Regions from separate parts of the Homo sapiens genome. Here all the other regions are linked to region 2. Evidence: fine-mapped expression QTL. A gene starts in region 2. Each other region holds a variant in brackets. All regions are shown on one strand. Distances are from middle to middle. Region 1 overlaps LOC124903282 (a long non-coding RNA gene). Region 2 holds the start of RNASE6 (ribonuclease A family member 6). Region 3 has its middle 14 kb from the start of EGILA.

Region 1 (10,552 bases), 71 kb before region 2:
ACTTGACCTCCCAATTCTGGGGTGGCCCTCATGTGTGCATGCAGCAGCAGCCACAGCTTTAATACTTCTGGAAGCCCTCAAAATTACAAGCTATGCTCCACTTACTCTCTACTGTTCCTGTAACTTTCCAAATCTATTCTCCTCCTCACGCTTGACACGTATACTTTCTGTGCCCCAGCTCCTTCAACTGTACTCACTATTTGTTGAGTCTCCCACAATTACCATTGTTCCTAGTCCAGACTTCAATCCAGCCTCTCATCTTATTCCTGATACTGCATCTGAGCCCCATGACTGTATCCCTCTAATCCACGTGGCATTCTCCCCTTTTCCCCATATTTTCCTCTTTCCTGTTCCCTACCCAGACCACACTTGGTTTATTGATGGTAGTTCTTCCAGGTCCAATCGCCAATCACTGGCAAAGGCAGGCTATGCTATAGTATCTTCCACATCTATCATTGAGGCTACAGGCCTGCCCCCTTCTGCTACCTCTCAACAAGCTGAAATCATTGCCTTAACTCGAGCCCTCATTCTTGCAAAGGAACTACGTGTCAATATCTATACCAATTCCAGGTATGCCTTCCACATCCTTCACCACCATGCTGTTATATGGGCAGAAAGAAGTTTCCTCACTACACAAGGGTCCTCCATCATTAATGCCTCCTTAATAAAACCTCTTCTTAAAGCTGCTCTACTTCCAAGAAAACTGAGGCCATTCACTGTAAAGGCCAACAAAAGGCATCAGATCCCATCACTCAGGGCAATGCTTATGCTAATAAGGTAGCTAAACAAGCAGCTGGCGTTTCAACTTCTGTCCCTCATGGCCAGTTTTTCTCTTTCTCATCTTTTCACTTTACATTTCCAGTTTCGCCTTACACAAGGTCTCTTCTTCCCCTGTGGCTCCTCCCCTACATGTGTCTACCTGTTAATTAGACAGGCACATGCACACTAGTTTTCCTTACCCCCAAAAATCAACTTGCAAATGGGACCCAAGAGCTTCCTGTTCCCCTCATGACACCAACACTTCACTACTATTTTGTTTTGTTTTTCTTATTATTAATATAAGAAGACAGGAATATGCCCTTGACTTACTCACTGCTGAAAAAGGGGGACTCTGTATATTTTTAAATGAAGAGTGTTGTTTCTACCAAAATCACTCTGGCCTAGTATATGACAACATAAAAAAAACTCAAGGATAGCGCCCAAAAACTCACCAACCAAGCAAATAATTATGCTGAACCCCCTTAGGCACTCTCTAATTGGATGTCCTGAGCCCTCCCAATTTTTAGTCCTTTAATACATGCTTTTCTCCTTCTCTTATTTAGACCTTGTGTCTTCTGATCAGTTTCTCAATTCATACAAAACTGCATTCAGGCCATCATCAATCATTCTGTATGACAAATGCTCCTTCTAACAACCCCACAATATCACCCTTGATGCCCAAATCTTTCTTCAGTTTAATCTCTCCCACCCTAGGTTCCCATGCTGCCCCTAATCCCACTTGAAGCAGCCCTGAGAAACATTGCCCATTATCTCTCCATACCACCCCCCAAAATTTTTGCCGCTCCAACACCTCACCACTATTTTGTTTTGTTTTTCTTATTAATATAAGAAGACAGGAAATGTCAGACCTCTGAGCCCAAGCCTGCAAGTATACATCCAGATGGCCTGAAGCAACTGAAGAACCACAAAAGAAGTGAAAATAGCCAGTTCCTGCCTTAACTGATGACATTCCACCATTGTGATTTGTTCCTGCCCCACCTTAACTGATCAATTAACCTTGTGACATTCCTTCTCCTAGACAATGAGTCTCAGAACCTCCCCACTGAGCACCTTGTAACCCCTGCCCCTGCCTGCAAGAGAATAACCCACTTTGACTGTAATTTTCCACTACCTACCCAAATCTTATAAAACTGCCCCACCCCATCTCCCTTTGCTGACTCCTTTTTCGGACTCAGTCTGCCTGCACCCAGGTGATTAAAAAGCTTTATAGCTCACACAAAGCCTGTTTGGTGGTCTCTTCACATGGACGCACATGACAGGAGCAGAGATATATGAAGATGCTAGCTGCTTAAGAAGGGAAGTGTGAGTGTGTGTGTGTGTGTGTGTGTGTGTGTGTGTGCACATGTTTAAGGGCAAAACTGACAAAACTGAAAACATTTGAATTACAGCAGATACAGAAAGAAATCTTACCTGAACTTCTCTCACCTGACTAAAGCAGAGCCTCCCAGAAATGCCCCCACCATTATCTCCCTCCGGAGGGGTCCTCATGTAATGGTAATAGGTCTTTTGCCTGATGTGCACAGCATGTCAATATGCCAAGACACTGGGTTGCAGCAGAGAAAGAGGTTTAATTGCAGGGCTGCTGAACCAAAAGATGGAAGGAAACCTCAAATCCATTTCCTCAAAGAGTTTGAGGCTGTTGTTTTTAAGGATTTGGAGTAGGTGGAAATAAGAGATCACTAATTGGTTGAAGAATGCAGAGTGAAGTCATGGGACAGAGAGATGAAAAAACAGTATTCTCATGCTGATCAGTTCATCAGTTGGGCTCTTTAAAGTTGGTGGTGTCAGCTGTTCTGCCGGAATTCAGGATCTGCATAAACAATTCTTAAACAAAAGCCTTATGATTCTAATGTCAAAGATCTTATCTATGGGAACAATGAGAATGCAAATTATCAGTAGCTAGTGTTCGTGAGTTTTGGTTACAAGGAAGTGGGTCAAAGTGTAGCCTGATTAACACTTACTCATAATTATATTTTTGTCCAGGATTCTTGTTAACCGTGTGAGGATTACTTCACCCAGACAGGAGATATTCCAAGAAAATTGTGTAAAACTTTATCCAAAGCTTCTATTTGTCTTTCCCAAAAGTCATTTGTTTTCCTATAGAAGTCATTTCTCCCTCCTTCTTTTCCCCTATGAGTTGATAACTAAACTTCTGTCTCTAGCTCTTCATCAAGCCTCTTCATCTGAATGCTTCCACAAGTTATGAATACAACTTGTTTTCTTTCCCCCTGCTAACCTGTCTATAGTTAATTCACAGGCTCCCACCCACTGAACCAAAGTTGGTAGAGGGAAAGTTTTCCCTCCTAATAGCATGTCTGTGTATATTTAGAGTGAGAAAGAAGGATGAAGAGATAATTCGTCTTTGTCACCATCCAGGTAGTCATGGGAGTTGGGACCTGTGGTATAATAAAAAATAAATTTGAACTTAGTTCCTGGTTCCTGCCACAGACCTTCTAAAATGCTTGGAATTTCCTGAGTGATAGTGTAACCAAACTAAGGGTCAGCTGATCACTGCTCACTGCTCAAAAGCAAGACTTGCAAGACAAGAGTTGGTGCAGGAAAAGCAGGTTTATTCAAGAGCTAGCAACCTGAGGAGATGGTGGACTAGCGCCTCAAAGACTATTTCAAAATTTTAGGCTAGCTAAAGGGATTTTAAGAAGTAGGAGGCATGGAAACTATGAGCAGGAGTGGTGCAGGGTGCAGGTTTGCATGTCTTACTCTGATGGCTATCTTCAGTAACGGATCACCTGGAGGTCTGGCTGGCATCACCATGACTGCAACTAGCTTATGGATTAACCCCCCTCAGTGATTTTTCTGAGAATGTAGGATTCCACAATCTCAAATTCATGCCCGGTTTATTTCAAGATTAGCCCCTGGGTTTCTTAAGCAAGGATACGGCTAGATACTGAATAAATCAAAGGGTGAGGCTATTCATTATTGAAGCAGGCTGATTATTCCAGCTACAAACTCCCCACTGCCAATTCCTGTTTCATTTCTATGGGAGATCAGGTGTCAATTTCTTTCTAGCTACTTCCTGCTGAATGAGGGCATCACTAGGGAGCTGAAGAATGGAATTTATTTACCTGGAGTTGGAAGTATTCATGCATTCCTTGACTTATGGAAGTGATTTTTTACAGCATCATTGACCTGGGAGTTAGGAGCCTTTCCAATTAAGGAAAACACAATCTTGCAATATCACACATATGGTGCAACAAGAGTATAACCCATAGAGAATATACCTATTCCTATAATCATAGCTGGAACTACTAGCAGTTTTTTCCACCAAGTAGGTCCGTATCCAAACCATGAAGATAACCACTGGTTTAGGAACATTGTGGGGTCAGACATAGCATTGATTTGTCTGTGCACGTCTTGAAGGGCTAAGGAGATGTTTCGCAAATTACCTAGGATATACACAAAACATTTAGTTTCAATTATGGGTCAAGGTCCCTCCCAGCAGCTGTGAGTACATCAAGGGCCATGTGGTTTTGCAAGACTACTTTTCCCATCATAGTCATTTCAGAGGTTACTAATGAGATGCCCTTAAATGTGTCTTTCAGCACTTGCTATAATTTGTAAGTGCCTCAATATGCCAGATGATGCTTTCTAAGCCTGCTTGGGGGAAAACAAGGGACAGGAGATGGTCGTAGGAAGGGAAAACCGGCCTGGTCCATTGGTGTAACACATCTGGAAAGTGTGCAGGCTGCCTGGTGGTTTTTGTTAATCAGCCCCGGACCTATGGGGGTCCTAACGTGCACTGCCCTATCCATCCATCAGGTAGACATGGCCGAAGATTAGTTTCACATAACTATTGAGTTCCACTGGGGACCAGCCACCAAATTTTGGGTCTGTGTCCAATCAGTGGTAAACAGGTTTGTCTAATATAGCACTAAAGAATGTTCATATTGATGTAGAGGCATCCTATCCACATTTTTAGTAACATTCGGCCAATGATTCTAAGAGTGATTCCTTTGTTCCCAACATGAAGTGGCAATTTGGGTTAAGTGACTAATAGTGGAGATCATCCAGAGGTAATCGTCCCAAATTTGATAAAAACTCACCTACCGTGTAATGGTTATTAGTAGCCAAAATCTTGGGGGCCATCTAGGAAAACTCCTTTAAGAGAGGGATTGCATACTCAGAGGTCCTTTGGATAGTCCGGTTATAATGAAGAGTTTTCCAGGATCTGGATTCTGAAGCGTTATATTAATGCCAGGCCATTTTTAAAAAATATTACCTTAAGTTACCAAGGTCCTGATTTTCCCATGAACAGTTTTTCATATACGTTTGTAAATGTATCTAATCAGTCCCCTGCAGGGGTGATACTCACTAAAGTAGCCCAGAAGTGCTAGAGATGGGTAGCAATCCACATACCCAGCAAGCATCTTAGTGTAGACTATCTGCATAATGTTATGCCCACTGTAGAAATAGACTAGTTTTAGCAGATGTCAAAAAAGTTTACTCATTATGATAAAGAATAACAGAAATTTAATCCTATAGTACAAAAAGATTTTTCTTAAGCAGTAGCTTCAGTTCTCCAGTTGGCTCACAAGTCCAACCAGGTTGATTGTCTGCTGTGTCAGGTTGGGGAGGGGCGATTTTTACCGAAATGTGATGTATGCGTGGTTTGACTCCAGCCAGCTTAACAGATGAATGAGTAGTTAATAAAACATCATAATGACCTGTCCACTTTTTGGCTGGCTGTTGTTGGTCCAGTCCTTGTTTTTACCAAGATTTTAGCGGCACTTTATCCTTGGATGAAAAGGGTGAAGGGGCTTTTTTGTAAGACACATAAAACTGGAAAGAACAAAAAGAACAAACTTGTGCAGGGTTAGTGATTTATGTCTTAGTTGTTGTACATATTGTTTAATTCTTGATTAATTTATTAAGTCCAAGGGTGGGGTCCCTGGCCAAGAACTTCAGAAGGGTCTCCCACACACAATTTCAAAAAGGCTTAATTTAAGCCCACTTCAGGGTGCTACCCCAATCCATAGCAGGGCAATAGGTAAAACCCTTTACCATTTTAAATCTGTTTCCCGATAGAGTTTTGCCAGGGGTTTTTTTTGGTTTTTTTGTTTGTTTGTTTTGTTTTGTTTTTGTTTTTGTTTTTGTTTTTTAGCATGTGGATCATCTTTTCAGTCTTTCCAGTTGATTGTGGCCTCCAACAAGAGTGTCATTTCCATTTGATCTGTAATGCTTGGCTTATCCTTTGTGTGATCTCAGAAATTAAAGAAGGATTATTGTTGCTTGGTATGGAGTAAGGAAGTCCAAATCGAGGAATGATTTCTTTTAGCAGAGCCTTAGCTACTTCTGCAGCTTTCTCAGACTTGTTCGGATAGGCTTCAATCTCTTGCTCGGGTAAGCTTCAACCTTTCCAGAAAATGTGTCTACAAACACTAGTAGGTACTTATAAATCCCAGTGTTTTTGGCATCTGGGTGAAATCAACCTGCCAGTCCTCGAATGGTCATATTCCTTTGTATTGTATCCTCCTCTGGGAAGAGTTGCATGCAGTTCTTGAATCATTTGGGGTA[T/C]ATAGATAACATGCTTGTATAATCTTTTGAATGATCTTTTGAAGGTGTGGCCCTTTGAGATATGGCTACACCAGGTGAGCCAGTCCATCTCTGCCATAGTGTGTCCCCTCATGCAGGTCTTTCAGGACTGGGTATACCAGGGCCTCAGAGAGTAATATCCCATGAGTGTTAGCTTTCCATGAGGAACAAGGGTCTGTGTTGGTCAATGTCCACTCATGTGTGCATTCTTCATTTCATTCAGTGTAGTGGAGTTTAAATTCTGACAAGTTTAAATGGAGTATTAAGGTCCCAAGTAAATATGTTTCTTGAGTGGCCTGCTTTGCAGCTTTATCAGCCACTTGATTCCCTTTGGTTATTGGGGAGTCATCCTTTTGGTGGCCTTGGCAGTGCATAATAGCAACTTGAGTTGGCAGAACAACTGCCTCTGACAAAGCTAAAATTTCCAGCAGGTGTTTAATGTCTTTATTTCTTGAGGTTAAGAATCCCCTTTCTTTCTGAATGACCCCACGGGCATACACTACCAAGAAGGCATACTTGGAGTAGGTGTAAATGTTTACCCATTTCTCTTGAGACTGTTTTAAGGCCCTGATGAGAGCAATCCATTCAGCTTTTTGTGCTGAAGTACCAGCAGCGGGGACATAGGCTTCTACTACTTTGTCTAGGGTCACTGGAGCATACCTGGCCTGGCGTTGTCCTCCTTCTGTGAAACTGCTTCAGTCAGTGTATAGCTCCCAGTCCGGAGTGGCCATCAGATGATCTGACAGATCTGGTCTGCTGGAATAGACTGCATCAAGAATTTCTAAACAATTATGCTCCAGTTCATAGTTGGACTCAGTGGCTGGGAGCAAGGTGGCAGGATTCAAGACTGTGGTGGTTTGGAGAAAACATTTCTGTTATCTAATAGGCTGGCTTGGTATTTGCCCATATGCCCCGCTATCATCCAGTAACCTCCCTTTTGTTACAATAAGGTTAACACTTGATAAGGCACAAATGCAGTAATGGGCTGTCCTAGGGTGAATTTTTCTGCTTCCTGTAAGATATCACACGTAGCTGCCACGGCCTGAAGACAAGGTGGCCATCCTCTGGTAATCTGCTCCAGTTGTTTGGGAAAGTAGGCTATGGGTTGTGGGGAATTCCCACGTAGTTGAATTAGTATTTCCTGTCCTGTGCCCTGGTTTTCATGGATATAGAGTCTAAATAGCTTTCAAGAATTGGGCAGTCCTAATGCTGGAGCTGACACTATTTTTTTTTTTTTTTTTGATGGTATCAAATGCCTGAAGGCATTCAGCCATCCAGTTTAGGGCTCCTGAATCTAATCCCTTTAGAGCCTTGTAGAGAGGTTTGACTATGAGTCCAAAATTAGGGATTCAGATTCAGCAGAAACCTGCCACACCTAAAACCCCCCACAGTGTCTTCCATTCCCAGGGGCCTTTATTGCTGCTATCACCTGTTTCTGGTTGGACATCAAGCTCTGCTTTCCTTGTTTTTAGTCAGAAGCCAAGATAGGTCACTTCTTGTTTACAAATCTGAGTTTTCTGAGGTGATATGTTACGTCCGTATTATATCAAATAATTTAAGATTAAGATAGTGTTAGATAGGCACCTCTCATAGTCTTGGCTTGCGATTAACAAGTCATCCAAGTATTTTAGCAGAACCCCATCATCTAGTTGAAAATCTCTGAAGCCCTTTGCCAATATTTTGCCAAAGATGGTGGGTGAGTTTTTAAAACCTTAAGAAAATACAGCCTAACAATATTGGAAGGTGTTTTTTGTTTCCAGGTCTTGCCACTCAAAGGTGAACAGCATCTGGTCCCTCTCTTCAATCAGGATGCAAAAAAAAAAAAAAAAAAAAAAGTATCTTTTAAGTCTAATACCGAAAACTACCCATACTGCCCTGGTTTATCAGTTAGTAAGGTGTAAAGGATGGGCATAGTTGGGTGAATGTCTTGAACAATGTCATTAATGGTTCCCAAATCTTGTACAAATCAATATTCATTTGAGTGTGGGTTTTTAACAGTCAGGATAGGGGCATTGTATGGAGATCTGTAAGGACATATTTGTCCATTTTTTAGAAACTTCTGTAATATAGGTTGTATCCCCTCTAAAGCCTCTCTTTTTAGAGGGCACTGTGTTTGGGGAATACCTTAGCCCCTTCATTTATTTCTGTGCACACAGGCTGTGTATTTTCAGCACTACCTGTGGTCCCATCTGCCCTCATGACTACTTACTTGCTCACAGATTGCTGGCAGGAGGCATTCTTTTTCTTCCTCGGGGTGTGTGAGCAGCATCTGCAGCTGCAAAGCTTGCTCTGGCAGGACCTGCAGATGAAGTTGTTGTTTTTCTGGAGAAAAACGTCACATGGCAATTTAGTTTACAAAGCAAATCTCACTCCAGCAAAGGAATTTGGTATTCCAGCATATAGAGGAAACTGTGTCTCAGCTCCAGATCTCTGTGTCCGGCAGTCTCCAGACTCTCCAGGGTCTGGAGAAAGGCTGTTTGCTGCATCTTGCCAGCGACAACCATCACAGGCACTGTTTTCCTAGTACTTTCAGTTTCTTTAGTGTTTCTACCTGAATAAGTCACACCAGTATTGATTAAAAAGTCAATCAATTTGTTCCCCATTGTCAATCGTACCTGAGGTTCCTGTGGGGAAATTACAACCTGCTCCAAAAGATTTGGGCCTCCTTCACTATCTGAGCTACAGTCCTGCTTTACCATCAGCCAGTATGTTTCTTCTCTGTCACTGTGTCTCCCTTCTTCTGGTTTCCCTGTCTTTTCTTTAATTTGGGGCACTCAGATTTCCAATGACCTTCCTCCTTGCAGGGGGCAGACTGATCATTACCTAGAGTTTTGTTCTGGCCACCTCCCTGTGCCTGGTTTTTCCTTTTCGGATATACATTCTTTCCACTAATTCCAAGTATATCATGGCTTGCTTTAGCTTTTTGGCCTTCCTGGCATTATATACTCTGAAGGCAATGTCCAGCAGTTGGGAAAGGTTTATTCCAAATACCCCCTCCAGTTTCTGCAGTTTTCGTTTAATATTGGATGAAAGTCACGTTTACCATTCTCATATTCTCAGGAGCTTCTGGATCATAGTCCATACACTTGTGGTAAACCTGGTAAATGCACTCCAGAAATTCACAGGGGTTCTCATCTGCCTTTGGGAGAACTGCCCTGGCTTTATTTAAGCTCTTTTACATTCTTCTCTTTAACCCTGCCAACACATGCTTTTTATAATGACTGGACAGGGCCATTCCTCCATTGTTGGGGTCCCAAGTAAAATCTGCAAGTGGAGCAGCCATTTCTATTCCTTCCCCATCCTGGGGAGAGGAGCTGACACCTTGGCCTCTCCGGGTCCTGGGCTACATTTGGTAATCCTGGGAGGGCTGGTGCCCCCAGTACCACATGGGAGGGGAAATTTAAGATATTTATGAGGCCCATATCATCAATATCCTCTTCCTTTTGGGTCTTACTATCTGGAAAGAGAAATCTCTTTTTCCCTTTTCTCTACGTCATTCACATAGACCCCTCATGTGCTGAGTCTTTGTTATGTAATAAATGCTTAAACACATGGAATCTCATTTCATTTCCCAGATCTTAGGCAAAATAACGCCAACTGTAATAAGGTGTACTAATGTAAATCACTGTTCAGTAGCCACCATTTTTCAGATTCCAACACATACATAGGCCAAACAGTGTTACAATGAAAAAAAATCATTATCTTTTTTGTTATGAGTTCATAGCTATAAGCTTTCCAATAAGCCAATATACAGCCCAATGGCCACTTAGATGGAATGGAAGTCAAGTTGCCCATTCTCAGGGGAGAGATCAAAAGAACACAAACACACAGATCAACACAGAGTACTCCTGAACCAATTCCTGTAGAAGGAGACTGGGAAGTTAATAAATCTTAGGCTAACTGATACTGCAAAAGACCTGTGTCAGGTCCAAATGGCATAAAGCCCAAATGGCAGAGACAGAGGATTTCTAGCATGCAAACTGGTTTGATTTACCCAGTCTTGAATCCTGTCAACTTCCTCAACTATCATTTTCCTTATACTAATAAAGCATTGCAGGCAGCTGATGCCACAGAGGGGGAAGGAGGGAAAAGATGTTCTTGGCAGCTGCTGGGACAACCCTAGAATCCCAGCTGGGAGGTCAGCTAGCCACGAGCAGCTAATCCTCATGAGAAGTTGTTGCTCTGCCTGGTAGCATGAATGAGTAAGCCCTGGCATGATGCC
Region 2 (10,552 bases):
GCTGTCCACTAAGGTCTGCAGTCCCCTCTACTGAGCCAAGCGATGGTTATGAGATCCAAGCTAGCCTAACTGAAGTCTCATAGGAAACAAGAATATGTCACCCCAAAATATGCCTCCAGGTTGAAAGTCCTGTCAATTAGCATTTTTGCTGCTCTGCATCCTTACTGGCTTTGATGATGTCAGTTTTCACTGCATTTTAGTCATTCATGTAGGTGTGTAGTATTATCCCATTGTTTTAATTTGCAATTTTCTAATGACAGATTGAAGGGATTCACAGCCCACCAATATGGCAAAACTGCCCTTGCAGAGTTATGGAGTGTTGCAAGCCAGGCTCTAGGCAGAATTGCACATTAATCATAGCATGCTGGTACACTTCAACCCACTTCCCTGTAGCTTCTAATTTCCCAAGTAGCATGCTGACCACCTACTCCCCGATTGTTCCTATAGGTAGAATCTCCAATACTAGAATCATGAAATCTTTTTGCTTAAGAATTGCTTAAGGTGTTTTTCTGATCCTGAATTCCAGTGCAACAGCTAATGCTAACCAGTCTAAAGACCCCTACCAAGGAACTGGCTTGGCACATGAATGCTGAGTTTCTTCATGTCCCTGTCCCATGACTTCACCTCTCACTTCTTGATGAATCAGAAATGCTCACATTTTGGCCCTTGTCCAGACTCCTTAAAAACCCTATCCCCAAACCCAAAACCAAATTGTAGGTTACCTCCCATCTACTCATTTGGCTGCCCTATGAAAATTAAACTCTCTCTTTTTCAATCCCTGTTTTCTTAATATATCCATTTGTTGTGCATCAAGTAACAAATCTGTTATGATGATAGTGGCATGAAAATTATTTTAAACTGAAAATGTCTGAACAGACAGAAGCTGCAGAAAGAAACACTATTTAAACTTAACCAGAGCCTCTTGAAAATTCAGCTGCCATTGATCCCCTTCAAAGGTATTTTCCTGTTTGAAACGAGACAGCCCCTTAGCACTGGGATGTGTAAATTAGCTTCCATAAACCCCCATACAGGGAAACTTCCAGCCAGGAAGAAATCAATCTACCCATTTCTATTAGCATCAGAAAGCTTACTAGAACCTTCCATATTTTCCTTTTGAAGCCCCAACAAAAATCTTTTATTTTTTATTTTATTTTATTTTTGAGACAGACTTTCACTCTTGTTGCCCAGGCTGGAGTGCAGTGGCGCAACCTTGTCTCACTGCAACCTCCGCCTGCCAGGTTCAAGAGATTCTCCTGCCTCGGCCTCCCGAGTAGCTGGGATTACAGGTGCCCACCACCATGCCTGACTAAATTTTGTATTTTTAGTAGAGACGGGGTTTTACCATGTTGGCCAGGATGGTCTCAAACTCCTGACCTCAGGTGATCTGCCCACATTGGCCTCCCAAAGTGCTGGGATTACAGGTGTGAGCCACCATGCCCGGCCAAATCTTTTTTTAAAAAATAGAGATGGGGGTCTTGCTATGCTGTTGGTTTCAAACTCCATGCCTCAAGTGATCCTCCTGCCTCAGTCTCCCAGAATGTTAGGATTACAGGCATGAGCCACTGCACTTGGCCAAAAACACTTTTTTTAAAGTTGATATATAACTTTACCTCTGGCTATTCAGCAAGTTACGCATTATGTAATACTCCTGTGTGCATGTGTAAATAAACTTTGAATTTTCTCCTATTAATCTTTTTCTAATTCACAAGCTCCTTTACCACCACCTTTAAAACCTAAAATGATAGAGGAAAAGTTTTTCTCCAAACAATGTGATGCTGAACATCTTTTCATTGCTCATCTGCCATCTGTATATCTTGTTTGGTGAAGTGTTGGGGTACAGAGAATCATACTACAAACTATGATGCATGGCATTCTGAGCACTTTTGAATTAAAGAAATTAAATTAAAGAATTAAATTTAACTAGAATTAAAGAATTAAAGAAACCAAAACTTCTTAGAAGCTGCCTCAGGACCAAAGATGTTCTAATCTTCTCTCATTCCTCCCCCAGCTCTCAAATGCAGAGAGGAGCTCTCTCTGGAAGTTCCCTTGTCTGGATAAGGAAAACTTCTTCCAAGAAATGCAATTGTCTTAAGACCCCCCTTTCTAAAAATCTCATCAGATAACCAGGAAATATTAGCCACCTGAAAAAAAGAAGAGACTAGAAGTCTCTTCACACCACACTCAGATAGACCTTTCATCTATTCTTCCAAGAGCAGCTCCAAAAGAGTACCTAAGAGACTTTATCTGTATAATAAGGCAACCTTTGTTCATAGTGCAGTTCCACCCTTCACCTTCCCATAACTCGTCACCCTTCCATTCAGCTTCCAAAGAGACTCATTTACAAACTATTGTCTGCTATTTGGGGCCAGTTCCCTAAAAAATATTTAAAACTCCTCAAAATTGCCTACATTTTCCCCATGTTCCTCTCCCCTATGAAGAGAATACATGAATTTCAACTATTTAGTCTTTCTTTGAGTCTCATAATTTGTATGGTTCCCATGATTATGCACAGTAATAAATTTGTATGCCTTTTTCTCCTGTTAATCTGTCTATTGTCAGTTCATTTCAGAAGTTTTGAACCTTCAGAGGGAGAGGAAAAATTGTCTTTGCCCCATACCATTCAGATGTTTTGCCCATTTTTCAACTAGGTTGTTGGTTTTCTTATGGTTGAGGTTTTTTGAGTTCTTTGTATATTTTGGATAATGTTCTTTTATCAGATATATCTTTTGCAAATATCTTCTCTCAGTCTCTGGCTTATCTTTTTATTCTCTTAATAGTATCTGTTGCAGAGCAGAAGTTTTCAATTTTAATGAAGTTCCACTTATCAATATTTTTCTTTCATGGATTGTGCTTTTGGTATTGTATCTAAAAAATCATTGCCAAACTCAAGGCTGCCTAGATTTTCTTCTATGTTATTTTCTAGAATTTTTGTAGTTTTGTATTTTGCATTAGGTCTATGGTCCATTTTGAATTAACATTTGTGCCAGGCGCGGTGGCTCACGCCTGTAATCCCAGCACTTTGGGAGGCCGAGGTGGGCGGATCACCTGAGGTCAGGAGTTCGAGGCCAGCCTCACCAACATGGTGAAACCCTGTCTCTACTAAAAATACAAAATTAGCTGGGTGTAGTGGTGCATGCCTGTAATCCCAACTACTCCGGAGGCTGAGGCAGGAGAATCACTTGAACCTGAGCGGCAGAGGTTGTGGTGAGCTAAGATCATGCCATTGCACTCCAGCCTGGGCAACAAAAGCGAAACTCCATCTCAAAAAAAAATTGTGAAAGATATAAAGTACAGGTCTATGAAAATGTATGAAGTCTAACCTATGAAAAGATTTATTTTTTGCATGTGTACATTCAGTTCTACTACCATTTGTTGAAAAGACTAACTTTTCTCAATTGAAAATTGATCCTTTGTCACAGATTAGTTCACTGTATTTGTGTGGGTCTACCTCTGGGCTTTCTACTTGGTTCCATTGACCTATTTGTCTATTTTTCACCAATAACACACTGTCTTAATTGCTGTAGCTTTATAGTAAGTTTTGAAGTTGGGTCACGTCAGTTTTCTGACTTTGTTCTTCTTTTTCTGCATTGTGTTGACTATTCTGAATCTTTTTTTTTTTTGAGACAGAGTCTCGCTCTGTCACCCAGGCTGGAGTGCAGTGGTGCGATCTCGGCTCACTGCAAGCTCCACCTCCCGGGTTCAAGCGATTCTCGTGCCTCAGCCTCCCAAGTAGCTGGTACTATAGGCGCCCGCCACCAGGCCTGGCTAATTTTTTGTATTTTTAGTAGAAACGGGGTTTCACTGTGTTAGCCAGGATGGTCTTGATCTCTTGACCTCGTGATCAGCCTGCCTCGGCCTCCCAAAGTGCTGGGATTACAGGCGTGAGCCACCGTGTCCAACCTGAATCTTTTACTTTTATATAAACTTCAGAGTCAGTTTGTCACTATCCACAAAATAATGTGCTGGGATATTGATTGAGATTGTGCTGAATCTATAGATCAAGTTGAGAGGAAATGACATCTTAACATATTGAGTATTCCTACTCATGTACATGGAATATCTGTGCTTCCTCAATTTCTTTCATTAGAGTTTTAAATTTTTCCTCATACCAATTTTTACATAATGTATTAGATTTACACCTAAGTATTTCACTTTCTTTGGTGCAATATAAATGGTATTGTGTTTTAAATATCAAATTGCAATTGTTCATTGCTGGTATATAAGAAAGCAACTGACTTTTGTATATTAACCTTGTATCCTGCAACCTTGCTATAAACAGACATTATGTTTATTCTGCAGACATTTGGAGCCATAAAAGCATGGGGCAAGAGTGTTGTACTATTATATCTTGTTCAAAAAAAGACTAATCTGGAAGTAATATGTAGAATGGATTGGAAGGAGAAAAAAACAAGGCAAGGAGTCCATGTGGGAGGCTTTTATGTGAGCCCTCCATAAGACAATGAGTTTCTGAATAAGGGTGTTGCAGTACCAGTGAAAAGGTAAGAACAGATTCAAGAGGCAAATATCCTAAATTCGGCCTTCTTCTTCAGGCTTACAGGTCTTTTCATACACAATTCTGTCTTTGGGAGGCGCTTAACACTCTCTTCACCTAACTTCTAATTATTCCTCAAAATTCAGTTCAGGTGTTGTGCCCTCCAACAATCCTTCCCCTCTACTATCTTCCCGTAGCCTCCTGCAGTGTCCTCCATCACACTGTAAGTGCTATTTATATTAATATAATCTACTTGTCTATATACTTACCTGCCTGTCTCTAATCTCTTTCATTAAATCATGAGCTCCTGGCAGATCACGAGGTCAGGAGATAGAGACCATCCTGGCTAACACAGTGAAACCCCGTCTCTACTAAAAATACAAAAAAATTAGCTGGGCGTGATGGCAGGCACCTGTAGTCCCAGCTACTCGGGAGGCTGAGGCAGGAGAATGGCATGAACCCAGGAGGTGGAGCTTGCAGTGAGCAAAGATCGCACCACTGCACTCCAGCCTGGGCGACAGAGCAAGACTCCGTCTCAAAAAAAAAAAAAAAAAAAACTCATGAGCTCCTGAATTTGTGTAGCCTAGTACCTGGCCCAATAAGTATATGCATAAATGAATAATGTATTCACTTCTGTTGTAGGAACTTACAACATTACCAAGTATGTGGCAGGCATTATATCATATTTATGTGACATATTTTCTCTTAAGAAACAGGAATCATAAAGCTTCAAAAAAAAACACTGAAGCCTCAGATGAGGCAGGAAGCACTCATTCCATATCAGGAAGTGATCAGTTCCTCAAAACTGTGAGTTTTCAGTCATGTTGTTTCTTTAAGTTGGTTTAGCCTTCCTGTATACATGTGATAATGATACTGTTTTAAAGAACAGGTGTGAAAGTCTAAGAGTTTAATCCAGACTCTGCACAAGAAGTTAATCTGCCAAACCCTAGGATTCTCCTTCTGAAAGCTCAGAATATTTCTTCCCCTTCCCTATACACACAGGGCTCGAAGGGTTAGAGAAGAAAGGCAGACAACAGCTTCTGAGCTTTGGACTAATCACAGCCTCTGTTCTCAGCAGGAGCCCCAACACTGAGACCAGGTAAGAAAGAAAGCCTCAGGGCTGGAGCGAGTAGAGCAGTAAAGACGGCTGGGAGGTAGTGGTCAGATAGAGGGTAAATATTTCAGGAGGGAAGAGGGAAGAAACTTTCTGATATGACAGCCATCAAATGCATGAGTACTTGTGAAAGAAAATGGGATATGCCAATCAAAGGAGAGGTCATATTTCTGTTTCCTGGGCTTCAGGTTCTTCATAGAATTGTGAGACTATGTGAGAAAGAAGATTTTAAAGGGAGCTGTAAAATCTTAAAAGGCAAAATAAAAATCTAAATAGTTATGATTAAAAATTTTGCTCTTATTGCTTCTCCTACTATAACTATCTTCTCTCTTTCTACACAGAAAAGATGGTGCTATGCTTTCCTCTTCTTTTACTGCTGCTGGTTCTATGGGGACCAGTGTGTCCACTTCATGCTTGGCCTAAGCGTCTCACCAAGGCTCACTGGTTTGAAATTCAGCATATACAGCCAAGTCCTCTCCAATGCAACAGGGCAATGAGTGGCATCAACAATTATACCCAGCACTGTAAGCATCAAAATACCTTTCTGCATGACTCTTTCCAGAATGTGGCTGCTGTCTGTGATTTGCTCAGCATTGTCTGCAAAAATCGTCGGCACAACTGCCACCAGAGCTCAAAGCCTGTCAACATGACTGACTGCAGACTCACTTCAGGAAAGTATCCCCAGTGCCGCTATAGTGCTGCTGCCCAGTACAAATTCTTCATTGTTGCCTGTGACCCCCCTCAGAAGAGCGATCCCCCCTACAAGTTGGTTCCTGTACACTTAGATAGTATTCTCTAAGGCATCCACTGCATTTCCTTTCATTTGACATAGCTTCTGTTACAATTGCATCCATGTTTTCTTTTCTTTTGTTGATTTTCTTGTTCCCGTAGAAGAAAGAAGAAAGGTGTTTGGAGAATTCGAGTGCCTAGGATGCCAGACCAGAGTTGAGACAAAAAGAAATAAGATTATTTTCTGCTTTGTAGTTCTGTACTTTTCGAGAGAAGGGAATAGGGAAGACAGCAAAGAAAGATTCAGATTTCTAACCCTGCAACTTTTGCCAAGCTTTATTGCCCTGTGTTCACAGCAATAAAACCACTTCCTGCTGCATTCTAATGAGTGTGTGTTTGAGATCCGCTTTCAAAGCATTGTTGACCGGTACTCAGAGGAACACTGTTTTGACTTTAAGTCCCTAGAAAACTTTTGAGGCCTCCCTGGGGCCCCACTTCCTTGCCCACAAGAAAGGACAGCGTTTGGGACTTTGGAGCATTTCTTCAAACTCTGCTCATGACTTTATATATTCCCCTGGAAACCATTGTCTATGCTTAATTGGAGGTAGTACTGATACCTCAAAGACAGTTGATGATAACTCACACATAGATTCTGTCACTGGCAACTGAAGGATCCTATGTCTTTTCTATTTGTTTCCGTTTTTAATCAGATAATGTTTTAAATATAAGGTGATAGTAGTAGTAATAGGGATAATAATCCATTGTAGTAACCTTAGGGTCAATCCTCCATTATTTATTGAAATGGATAAATAGAAAGCATAGATCAAGAAAAAAGCACTAGGCTTGTCGTGGTGGCTCACGCCTGTAATCCCAGCACTTTAGGAGGCTGAGGCAGGTGGATCGTCTGAGGTCAGGAGTTCAAGACCAGCCTGGCCAACATGGTGAAACGCTATCTCTACTAAAGATACAAAAAAAGTAGCTGGGCGTGGTGGCAGTGCCTGTAATCCCAGCTACTCGGGAGGCTGAGGCAGGAGAATCGCTTGAACCCAGGAGGTAGAAGTTGCAGTGAGCAAATATTGTGTCACTGCACTCCAGCCTGGGCAACAGAGTGAGACTCCCATCTCAAAAACAAAAAAAGAAAAAGAGAAAAGCACCAGGAGACCCAATGCAGTGGCTCACACCAGTAATCCCAGCACTTTGGGAGGCCGAGGCAGGCAGACGACTTGAGGCCAAGAGTTTGAGACCAGCCTGGCCAATGTGGTGAAACCCCATCTCTACTAAAAATACAAAAAATTAGCCAGACATGATGGCAGGAGCCTGTAATCCCAGCTAATCAGGAGCCTGAGGCAAGAGAATCGCTTGAACCTGGGAGGCAGAGGCTGTAGTGAGCCGAGATTGCACCACTGCACTCCAGCCTGGGTGACAGAGCGAAACTCCCGTCTCAAAAAAAAAAAAAAAAAAAGGAAAGAAAGAAAGAGAAAAAAGCACTAGGAAACTAAAAACATTCTAGTCCTATGTAAATACTGAAATACCACAGAAGTATTGGGGTTTTGGAACAGAACCTGAACTAAGCCATTTCACAGAAGGAACTTCAGTTTCCTTGTCAACCTCTAGAGTCATTGGGCTAGTGGGCCAGTGTAAATCCCAAGTGCTTTGTACAGTGATGAGTCTTCAAGTAGCAGCCAAAGACAATGAAGTTTTTTTGAAAAGGCTACATATTGTAGTGTCTTCATTACCTGTGCTGCAAATGATTCTTTCCAAGCCAGACTATTAGTTTAATAGATATGCTAACTCAGCTCACCTTCCTTTACGCTACACATTTATGTCATATCTTAGGAACAAAGAATGGAATATGAGGTTTCAGGAGCCTGGATTCCAGGGTGATGACTGATCAAGGGCCCTCCCATTGGGAAGAGATTAGCAGGTCAGGGCAATATGGCACCTAAGAAGGTGGGTACCTTATAGAGGGAATCCTACAGTGGGACTTGAGTGCTCTAACTCAAAGCAGCTTTCAGTTGTATTCAGCTTTAAGCCATGTTGCATTTACATTTTATTGTCTCAGAGTCTTCATGTAAAGTGTGGTGGAATGGCAGGGAGAATCTGTGCTCACGTTTGGTATGAACAAGTATACGAAAGTAGCAGCATCTGAAAGGAAAGGGGTTGAATGGATTTATATGAACATTACCTGGAAATTGCCAGAGATTCTTAAAGGTAATCTAGTAAAACCAAACAACTCAATTGCTCATGCTATTGTTATTTATATAGTAAAGGTATCTCATGGATTGAATACATCTGTGCTGCAAAAATTTTTCAACTGTCAGAAACATTAGGGAACATGAAATGTTACTTAAAATTAGTGAAATAAATTGTGAGGTCTAAAATACTGCAAATATTTTGTAACAAATGGTTAAAAACAAAAATATAATGAGTGCCATCTTTTGAAGAGATTTGCAGCAACAATATCTAATCTTCCCCACCCTCCCATGACAAACCTATCCCCAACAACAATTAGAGTCACTTTTTGTTGCTGATCAAGGAAAAGGCAACAATGAGGGTAACTTTTCAACAATCTATTATGCCCAAACTTTTAGAAGGTATTAGTTCTAAACAAGTGGAATAGACTGGGATGGAATCTCTCATAGATTTATTTTCTTTTCTACATGCAGTTATGTATTGCAGAAGTTCAATACATAATTGCTAAGAAGTTCACTTAGATATATCCCTAGAATATACAGAATGATCCCAAAGCAGGCAAAGCTTAGAAGTGAATTCAGCAGATGTTCTAGCAGCTCTCAACTCTGGCTTCATATTAGATTCACCTGGGAGCTTTTAGAAAAATACCAATGACGGGATCTACTAAATAAATTTTATGAACATTTAATGAACAATTAAATGAATATCTGGGGGTGAGACCTGGGCTCTAATGGATGTTTGTTAAAGATCCCCATGTAATTGTAATGGGCAGCAAATATTGGTAACAACTGTTGATGCAGGGGTAAGCAAACTACATCTGCAGACCTCTGGCCTGCCGCGCCTATTTTATACTGCCTGGAGTAGTGTGGTTTTTACTTTTATTTTTTTTTTTGAGATGGAGTTTGGCTCTGCCGCCCAGGCTGGAGTGCAATGGCTGGATCTCGGCTCACTGCAACCTCCACCTCCTGGATTCAAGCGATTCTCCTGCCTCAGCCGCCTGAGTAGCTGGGATTACCCGCCACCACGCCCAGCTAATTTGTTTGTTTGTTTGTTTGTTTGTTTGTTTGTTTTTTGAGACGGAGTCTCATTCTGTCGCCCAGGTTGGAGTGCAGTGGCGCGATCTCAGTTCACTGCAAGCTCTGCCTGCCGGGTTCACGCCATTCTCCTGCCTCAGCCTCCCGAGTATCTGGGACTACAGGCGCCCGCCACCACGCCCGGCTAATTTTCTGTATTTTTAGTAGAGACGGGGTTTCACCGTGGTCTTGATCTCCTGACTTCGTGATCCACCCGCCTCGGCCTCCCAAAGTGCTGGGATTACAGGCGTGAGCCACCGTGCTTGGCCGATTTTTACTTTTTTAGGGGGAGAAGAAAAAGGAGGAGGAAGAGGAGGGGGGGAAGAACAGGAAGAAGGAAGGAGTAGAGACGTGAGGGAGGGGAAGGAAGGGGAAGAAGAGGAAGAAGAAGGAGAGGAAGTGACACAGACCCTATGTGTTCCACAAAAGTGAAATATTTACTGTCTGGTCCTTTATAGAACAAAGTGTGTTGATTCCTGGTCTTCTAGACTATTCAATGGATCTTGTCCTTTGGCTGTGGCTGAGGCAGGTGGCTGGAATTCAGTAGGAAGGACGACACCTGGCAGGCTGAGAATTTTGAACTGGGGCCTCAGGAAAGTAATGATTTTTTTTTTTTTTTTTTTTTTTTTTTTTTTTTTTGAGACGGAGTCTCGCTCTGTCGCCCAGGCTGGAGTGCAGTGGCGCGATCTGGGCTCACTGCAAGCTCCGCCTCCCGGGTTCCCGCCATTCTCCTGCCTCAGCCTCCCCAGTAGCTGGGACTACAGGCGCCCGCCACCACGCCCGGCTAATTTTTTGTATTTTTAGTAGGGACCGGGTTTCACCATGTTGGCCAGGATCGTCTCGATCTCCTGACCTCGTGATCCGCCCGCCTCGACCTTCCAAAGTGCTGGGATTCCAGGAGTGAGCCACCGCGCCCGACCGTAATGAATTCTTAATATTCCTTTCTGTGCC
Region 3 (7,792 bases), 60 kb before region 2:
TTGATCTTTAAATTTATCTGGTACTCCTCATGGGACTCCAATTGCATCTAAATAAATGTGGGAGTTGAAAGACCCATAAGGAGCTTCCCTTGTTTTATGATGTTGTATTTTTCCTCTCTCTGGTTGATGAAATGCTAGGGTGGAAGGGATAGCCAATTAAACTAGAGCACAAGTGCTGCTCCAGTTACTTGGCAGAGAGTCCAGTAAAGGTCCACCACAATACCACCATACATATGCTTGGGGATGAACAAGGGCTGACTGATTGGTAAGCTCTTGGAAAGTCTTAAGCTCACTGCATCTTTTTAGGTCTCCAAGGAATGCTAAGTTTCCTCCCTGTAGTGAGAGATATGAAGTGAACTTAGCGTCAGGGGACAGAAGCTGAGTGGACCTTGGGGGCTGACCTGCAGGGTATTGAACCTCAGGATATAGCAGAGAGAGCTTGACACGACTTTTTACCCCAGGCTGTGTAATCCTGGAAAAAAGTAACCATACAGCCCATGCCTAGTAGACTAAAGGACTATCCTAATGGAAAGGGGACAATCTGGGCTTCTGGTCTGCCGTGCGCACAAGCATAACAAATGCTTTTGTTTAAAGTGTGGATGGAATGTTTGATCCACTCCAACCAGGCATTAGCATCTTGATATTCTGTCTCAATTGCCAAAGTTTGTTTTAGGTCTTTAACTTCTATAATAACTACCTTGGTCTTGTCATTAGATGGAGGAGAACAACAGTTTTGTTGTGAGAGCTTCTGGAAGAAGGCTTAAGGGAAGGTGTAGGCGGCAGAGGATCAATGAATTGTGTTTCAAAGGATCTGATAGGGTCTGTTCCTGAAACCTCAGCCCCCACACCATAAAACCGGCTTAAAGAAGGGAACCGGCTTAGAGAAGGGGAAGAGCTTTGAGGGTTTGAGATAATAACCTGTATTGGATTGCACGGTTCAGCTGACAGCTAGGTGAAGCTGTTCCTTTAGTAAAGTGAATATATGACTTTAGGAAATTACAACCACTGGTTGGGGCAGCTCATCCTTGCTCTTTAGTGGTCCACAGAATGTTGGACCAACTGTGGCATAAAAGCTCTGTCTTGCAGGAGCAAGACTCCCAGCTGATACTGGGGTCTTTATTGAAATCTCTCCAGACTAAATGATCCCCATTCACTAATGTCCAGTCTGAGGAGAGCCGGGAAGGACAGAGGTACTTTTCTGAATTGGAGAGCTGTCTTTAACTTGACAAGTCTCCACAAGGTATAACAAGGCAAGCATCAAATGTAATAGTTTGAGGTGAAATTGACTTTGTTACATTAATAATGAGGTGGTCAGCAATAGAATGAGGAAAGAAGAAGGAGTAATAAGAGAGTTAAATTTTTCTTAGCTTGGCTCACGCCTGTAATCCCAGCACTTTGGGAGGTCGAGACAGGTGGATCGTTTGAGGTCAGGAGTTCAAGACCAGCCTGGCCAACATGGTGAAACCCCATCTCTACTAAAAGTACAAAAATTATACAGGCGTAGTGGTACACGCCTGTAATCCCAGCTACTCGGAAGGCTGAGGCGGGAGAATTGCTCGAACCCGGGAGGTGGAGGTTGCAGTGAGTGAAGATCGCACCACTGCACTCCAGCCTGGGCAACAGAGCAAGACTCTGTCTCAAAAAAAAAAAAAATTTCTTAGCTTTAGTTTGGTAGGGTTTTCCCCTGGGACTATGGCCCACGACTCTGGAGGGGGCGGCACTTTCTTGACTTGGGTGTGATAGGTCCATCCTTTTTCTGCTGTCTGGACTGCGCTTTCAGTAGTTAGGAGCACTAGATAAGGTCCTTCCCAGGCCAGTTCCAGCTTTTCCTCCTTCTAGTTTTTGATGAGGACTTGATCCCCGGGCTGATTTCGATGTACTGGGAACTCCAGGGATGGTGCCTGTGCTAAAAGACCTTTAGTTCTAAGGGAAGAGAAAGTGGAAGATAAACCAAGTATATAATGTCTGAGAAACTGATCTTTTGTTTCGAAGGTGGAAATGTCAGCAGTGGAGTGTAAATAGGGCAACCCATATAGCATCTCATATGGGGATAGGCCAACATCTTTTTGAGGGGTGGTTCAGATTCCTAGCAAGGCAATGGGAAGGCATTTAGTCCATGGCAACTGAGTCTTTAAGACTAATTTGGTTAAGTGACTCTTCACGGTTTGATTTATTCTTTCTACTCTTCCCGATGAAGGTGGGTGCCAAGGAGTATGGTATTCCCACGTTATGTCTAGTGCTTGGGCTAATTTCTTAATGATATGTGCAGTGAAATGAGTTCCATTATTTGAATTAATATTTTCAATTTATTTGCCCAGATCCATTGGAGGAACCACTATCTATGACCGCTATAGTCTTATGAAATGTATTTCTGAAGTAATAAGACTTGAAAGCCAAAATTACTCCTTGATCCATGGGCTGCAGAACTGCAGAACGGATGTTGTGTGAGCAGGCATGGAAACTATGGAAATTAATATCTTTGAACATCTCCATCAGAGGCCTTAGGTAACCAAGTGCATTGCCAATCAGCAGTAGTATTTTGAAAGGAATCTTTTTTTTCTGAGCAGGTCTCAATAATGAGCTTAAAATATTCAGTAAACCATGATGTAAACAGATGTGCTGTCAATCAGGCTTTGTTGTTCCATTTATAGAGACAGGCAAAGTAGATTCAGCATAATTCCTAAGGGCCCTAGGATTTTCAAATGATACATGAGCACTGGCTTCAACCTGAAGTCTCCAGTGGCAGGTGCCCCCTGACAAGAGAGTTGGCCTGCCCTCTGAAGCTCTGAAACCAGGCACTGACTCCTCCTCTCTAGCTATGGGAGTCCCAGATGGCACCTTCTTCCACTATAAAGCTGTCTCATCTACACTGAAAATCTGTTGTTTAGTGTGGCCACCTTCATCAATGATCTTATCTAGAGCTTCTGGAGAACTTGCTGCAGCTTCTCCTCAGGACTTGCTGCTTCATCCTGCACTTTTATGTTATGGAGATGGCTTCTTTCCTTAAACCTCACGAACCAACCTGTGTTGGCTTACAACTTTTCTTCTGTAGCTTCCTCACCTCTCTCAGCTTTCAGAGAATTGAAGGGCCTGATCTGGTTTTGACTTTGGCATAAGAGAATGTTGTGGCTGGTTTGGTCTATCCGAACCACTGAAATTTTCCCCGTGTCAACAACAATAAGGCTGTTCTGCTTTCTTATCACTTGTGTGTTCACTAGAGCAGAACTTTTAATCTCCTTCAAGAACTTTTCCTTTGCATTCGCAACTTGACTAACTGGCTCAACAGCATTTGGCCTATCCTAGCTTTTGACACGCCTTCCTCACTAAGCTTAATCATTTCTAGATTTTTAAAGTAAGAGACATGTGACTCTTCCTTTCACTTGAACACATAGAGGTCATTGTAGGGTTACTAAATGGCTCAGGGAATAGGGAGTCCTAAAGACAGGAAGGTGGGGAAGCCGCCAATCAGTGGAGCAGTCAGAACACACACATTTATCAATCAAGTTTGCCATCTTCAGTTTGTGGCACCCCAAAATAATTACAATAGTAACATCAAAGATCACTAACCACAAATTACTGTCAGATATAGTCATAGAAGAAGTTTGAAATATTCTAATAATTACCAAAATGTGACACATGGAAGCACTAAATGCTGTTGAAAAAATGGCGCTGACAGATTTGCTCAATGCAGGGTTGCCATAAGCCTTCAACTTGTAAAAAACACAGTATCTACGAAGTGCTATAAAGGGAAACACAACAAAACGAGGTGTGCCTGCACAACCAATGCCCAACTGTGTGTACCGCCTGAAGGAAAATGTTTCAAAGGTATCACAACTTTTTAGTCTGGAAATCTGAACAATATTTTGGTTTTTCACAGTGAGCATGTGGAACTTATATAACCAAAAAAGTAAAGTTGTATTTGAATGCATGTGGGCTACAAGTAAAAAGGAAGATGAAATAACAGTTTTATAAAGCGGAAAGATTTATGGGTCTAACTCTGTGTCATATTTAGATTTTCTAATAAATGGGTATAGGAACAGAAGGAGAGACAGAGTTAGATAAAAGGTGTAGACGGTAGGCTTTGCTGCTTCGAGAACTTGGTGCTGATTAGAGGTGTGATTGCATTCATGGTAATAGGGATGAGTGTCACGAACTGCTGTGTGTTCTGCTGGTGAGCTTCACTGCAATACTGCACTAACCAGTGAGTGTAAGCCTGCAGCACAGCCAGGGACTGAGCACGTACATCAATGAGGTCAGGTTTCAATACTGATGGCACATCAGTTTCAATGTTGCACAATTTTTTTTTTTCTTTTTTGAGACGGAGTCTTGCTCTCTTGCCCAGGCTGGAGTGCAGTGGCACGTTCTCAGCTCACTGCAACCTCTCCCTCCCTGGTTGAAGTGATTCTCCTGCCTCAGCCTCCCGAATAGCTGGGACTACAGGCACGTGCCACCGTGCCCACCTAATTTTTTGTGTTTTTAGTAGAGACAGGGTTTCACCATGTTATCCAGGATGGTCTCAGTCTCCTGACCTTGTGATCCACACACCTCGGCCTCCCAAAGTGCTGGGATTACAGGCGTGAGCCACCGCACCTGGCTCAATGTTGTACAACTTTATCTGAGATCCATACAGAGTGACTTTGACCAAACTCTCCACAACTGTGAGGGCATCATTGAACCATGCAGCAAACACATCCCCAATAAAGTACCCGGCCAGGTGGCCCATGGCCTGCAGCAGGGAGCTCAAGTCTCTCAGGGAGCAGTGCAGCCACCAGCAGTCGTTCTCTGCCATGATGTTCAACCTGTGTCCTGACCCTGATGTAACTATAACTTGCTGTAATCCCAAATAAA[C/T]TTCTAAATTGCCCTGAAGAACTGGGAACAGTGTGGACAACGTGTGCGTGGGCAGGAGCTCCATCACTTTGACCGCCACCTCCAAGCTCTGCCGTAAGTACCGCTGTCACTCCATCTGCTGATCGTCATCCAGAGTCTCGTCATCCAACTCCTCCAGCTGGCCTGGTTGTATCTGAACTGGATTTGATTCAACACCTCTGTGGGGAGGAGCACCAGGGCATCTTCGTACCTGTTGAGAACTGCTTCCTTGTCTTCAAGATGACTTTTAATTTTATTTGTCAGATAGTCCAAAAAGAGTGTCCAGTATCCAAACAAGAGAATTAACCTTCATGAGTAGGCTGATGAAATGTGTACTTGAACAAAAGTGTCAAAAACTCCACCACAGAGAACTGGGAGTAAGACTCGATTCTTCTTAGGTGAACACTCACAAAGAGCCAAAGAAAGTCAGTAAACTTCTCAATAAAGCTCTCATCGAGCTCTTCTAGCCTGCTCTTCACTGTGTGGGCATTGTTATCCTTGGTGATCTTCTGCAGGAGGTAGAAAGTCTGCTGGAACATAAGCAGTAAATACTCCTCGAACTCCATCGGCACACAGCTCTTGGAAATGAGTTCACTGATGCAGGGCATGGCCAGGACCCCCGGCCGGCTCCGCTCCTGAACCGAGACACAGTTCTGGCTGCTGCCGTTAACTGACGCCATCTTTCTGGCACGGATGTCACAGCCAAATCACGCAAAGTGGAAGGTGGTGGTAAGGAGGGATGGGGTGATGCCGGCAGACAGAGGAATACAACTGAAGAGATGGGCTAGGCACTCCAAGGCAAGGGAACAGATATACTCACTCACCACATCAAGGATGGGAATTGGCTGATTCAACAGTTTGGCTGAACTAGGACTCTGCCACAGGTTACTCAGTAAGTCACCACTTTCTCCTGTCGGGGAGGGTGGTGGAGTGGCAGCAGTAACACTGTGTTTGTCCCAGACAGTCCCCAAGATAGCGGTCAGCAGCCCAAGCACTGTCTGCACCTGGTCCAGTGGCAGCTTCTGCAACTCCTCCTTCCAAGCCACACTGAGGTCCTCGTGGGGACAAGCCAGCTCCTCTGAAGTTGTCTTCAACATGATCGGCCCAAGGGGGGTTGTCACAGGGGATTGGTTCAACTGCAAAATGTTAGTAAAAAAGTCATGGTAGAACATGGGCCGATCCTGACGTCCAATATCAACAATAACTTTGCAGAACTTGCTCTGGATAAAGTAAGGTAAGGTTTTATGGTGAGCCAAAAGGAGTTTGGGCAGTCAGCTGTGGATTTCCATCTCATCCTGAGATGGGACCCCAAGCCACATTTTATTGATCAGATTCTCAAAAACTGTTAAACTGTACATCATTACATAGCCATTCCTAGTGCTGGAGAGAAAGTACAGGAAGAATCTCCAGGCTCCTATTTGCTGGGCAATGTTATTAAGAAGCTCCTCTATCTCACGTTTTCTTTCATTGGTCGTACCATCGTGAAAAAGTTCTGTCATCAGCCTTTCCAATGCTCTGAGAGGGGCTTCTTCAGATGCCATGCTGGCCGGGGAGGGGGCGGCTCAGATGAGCTGGTTCTTGGGCTTTGGACACATCCTACTCGCCCAGTTCAGGTCATGGTCCCGGCAGACTAGGGAAGTCCCCTACCCATGCAAAGATAACCCCTTCCCCCCCGGGCCCCGAGGGGATCCTCTAAAAAGGGCAGGGCTGCCTGGGTCGCCTCATCGGGGGCCCCTGAGACAAGTCATCTAGACCCACCGGCCCCTCCACAAGGAAACTGAAAAAGTAGGAAATGGGGCTCGATTGCTGGCGAGGAGGGCAGCAGCTCGGGACCCCCGCCCGGCCCGAACCCCGCGCGGGGGAGGCTGCGGGCGCAGGCGGGGGCTCCCCGGCCTCCGCGGGCAGAGGTGGCGGCGGGCTCGGCCCGGAGGCTGAAGGGGCGGAGGCTGACGGGGCCTTGGCTGCGCTGCCGGGGCAGCCGGCTCAGGGGAGAGGCCCAGGGGCCCGCGCTGTCCTCGCCGCCTCAGCCCACACGGCTGCCGCCGCCGCCCCCTAGAGCATCCCTGAGCGCGCCCGCCCTGGAGCCGCTCGCTCGTACCGCACGGCCGCCCCCGACCACAGCATTTTAAAATCTGCTACTGTAAACCACTGGTGGCTGTATGGGATCCTACTGATAATAGTATTAGGATTGGGAACAACAGAGTGTGTAGCTTGGAGTATCTGATTAATAGCTCTAAGGTCTTGCCCTAACCGGTATGAGCCATCTGCCTTTTTACAGGCAGTACTGGAGTGTTATAGGAAGACATGCAGGGTTCAAGAAGCCCATCACGGACAAGACCTTCAATCAGAGGTTTCAAATTTACCCTGGCTTTTGAAGGAATAGGGTATTGCTTTCGCTTTACTACTTCCCCAGGGGTGTTTAATTTAAGATGAATCAGAGGAATCTGTAACTTTCAATTCCCGTCTTTTGACCATACCTCGGGATGAATGTGTTCTTTGTCTGTGGTGGTGAGCAAGTTTAGGGAGGGGAGGAATTTTCCAAGACTGATCTGGAGACCTAAGCCTAATTTTAGCGTTAAATCTCTTTCTAATAGATTTGTCCCTGTTTCCAGAATTAACATAAATTTGATACTAGCTGATTGTTTTTTATATTTCACTTCTGTCTCCTCTAAGATTTTTTTTTTCTCTCTACCTTTGAGTCTCCTGGCTTTACTCTTTCATACCCTTTATATTGCCTGGAGAGTGGGTTCTTTATAGGTTCTGGCCCCCTGGGTACTTTGTTGTATGGTGGACAGCAGAATTTTCGCCTTCTGCTTTTGTTTTTCTTCATCCCTTCTTACATATACTTTCTGGGTTTCTCTCAGAAGCTCTTCTATAGGTCTATCTTTCCAGTTCTCTATCTTTTGTAATTTCTTGTTAATATCTG

The links.
Region 1: its variant is fine-mapped to the expression of RNASE6 in whole blood (TOPMed, PIP above 0.99). The same link has a PIP of 0.9 or more in blood mononuclear cells and monocytes.
Region 3: its variant is fine-mapped to the expression of RNASE6 in whole blood (TOPMed, PIP above 0.99).

The regions. Positions count from the first base shown.
Region 1 is chr14:20,704,542-20,715,093 of GRCh38, forward strand. LOC124903282 (a long non-coding RNA gene) reads right to left here. Exons shown (of 2, transcript XR_007064061.1): 1 at 8,540-10,552; 2 at 5,252-7,177. It overlaps EGILA (EGFR interacting lncRNA), which reads right to left and starts at 2,400. Exons shown (of 4, transcript NR_174964.1): 1 at 2,206-2,400. The variant T/C (reference allele first, on the strand shown) is at 6,313.
Region 2 is chr14:20,775,748-20,786,299 of GRCh38, forward strand. RNASE6 (ribonuclease A family member 6) reads left to right here and starts at 5,521. Exons shown (of 2, transcript NM_005615.5): 1 at 5,521-5,591; 2 at 5,948-6,720. The coding sequence starts at 5,953. The coding sequence ends at 6,405. All of the region lies in intron 1 of LOC107984671 (a long non-coding RNA gene), which reads right to left. RefSeq lists an enhancer at 6,596-6,665.
Region 3 is chr14:20,716,722-20,724,513 of GRCh38, forward strand. It overlaps the pseudogene RANBP20P. Among named protein-coding and RNA genes, the nearest start is that of EGILA, 14 kb to the left of the region's middle. The variant C/T (reference allele first, on the strand shown) is at 4,849.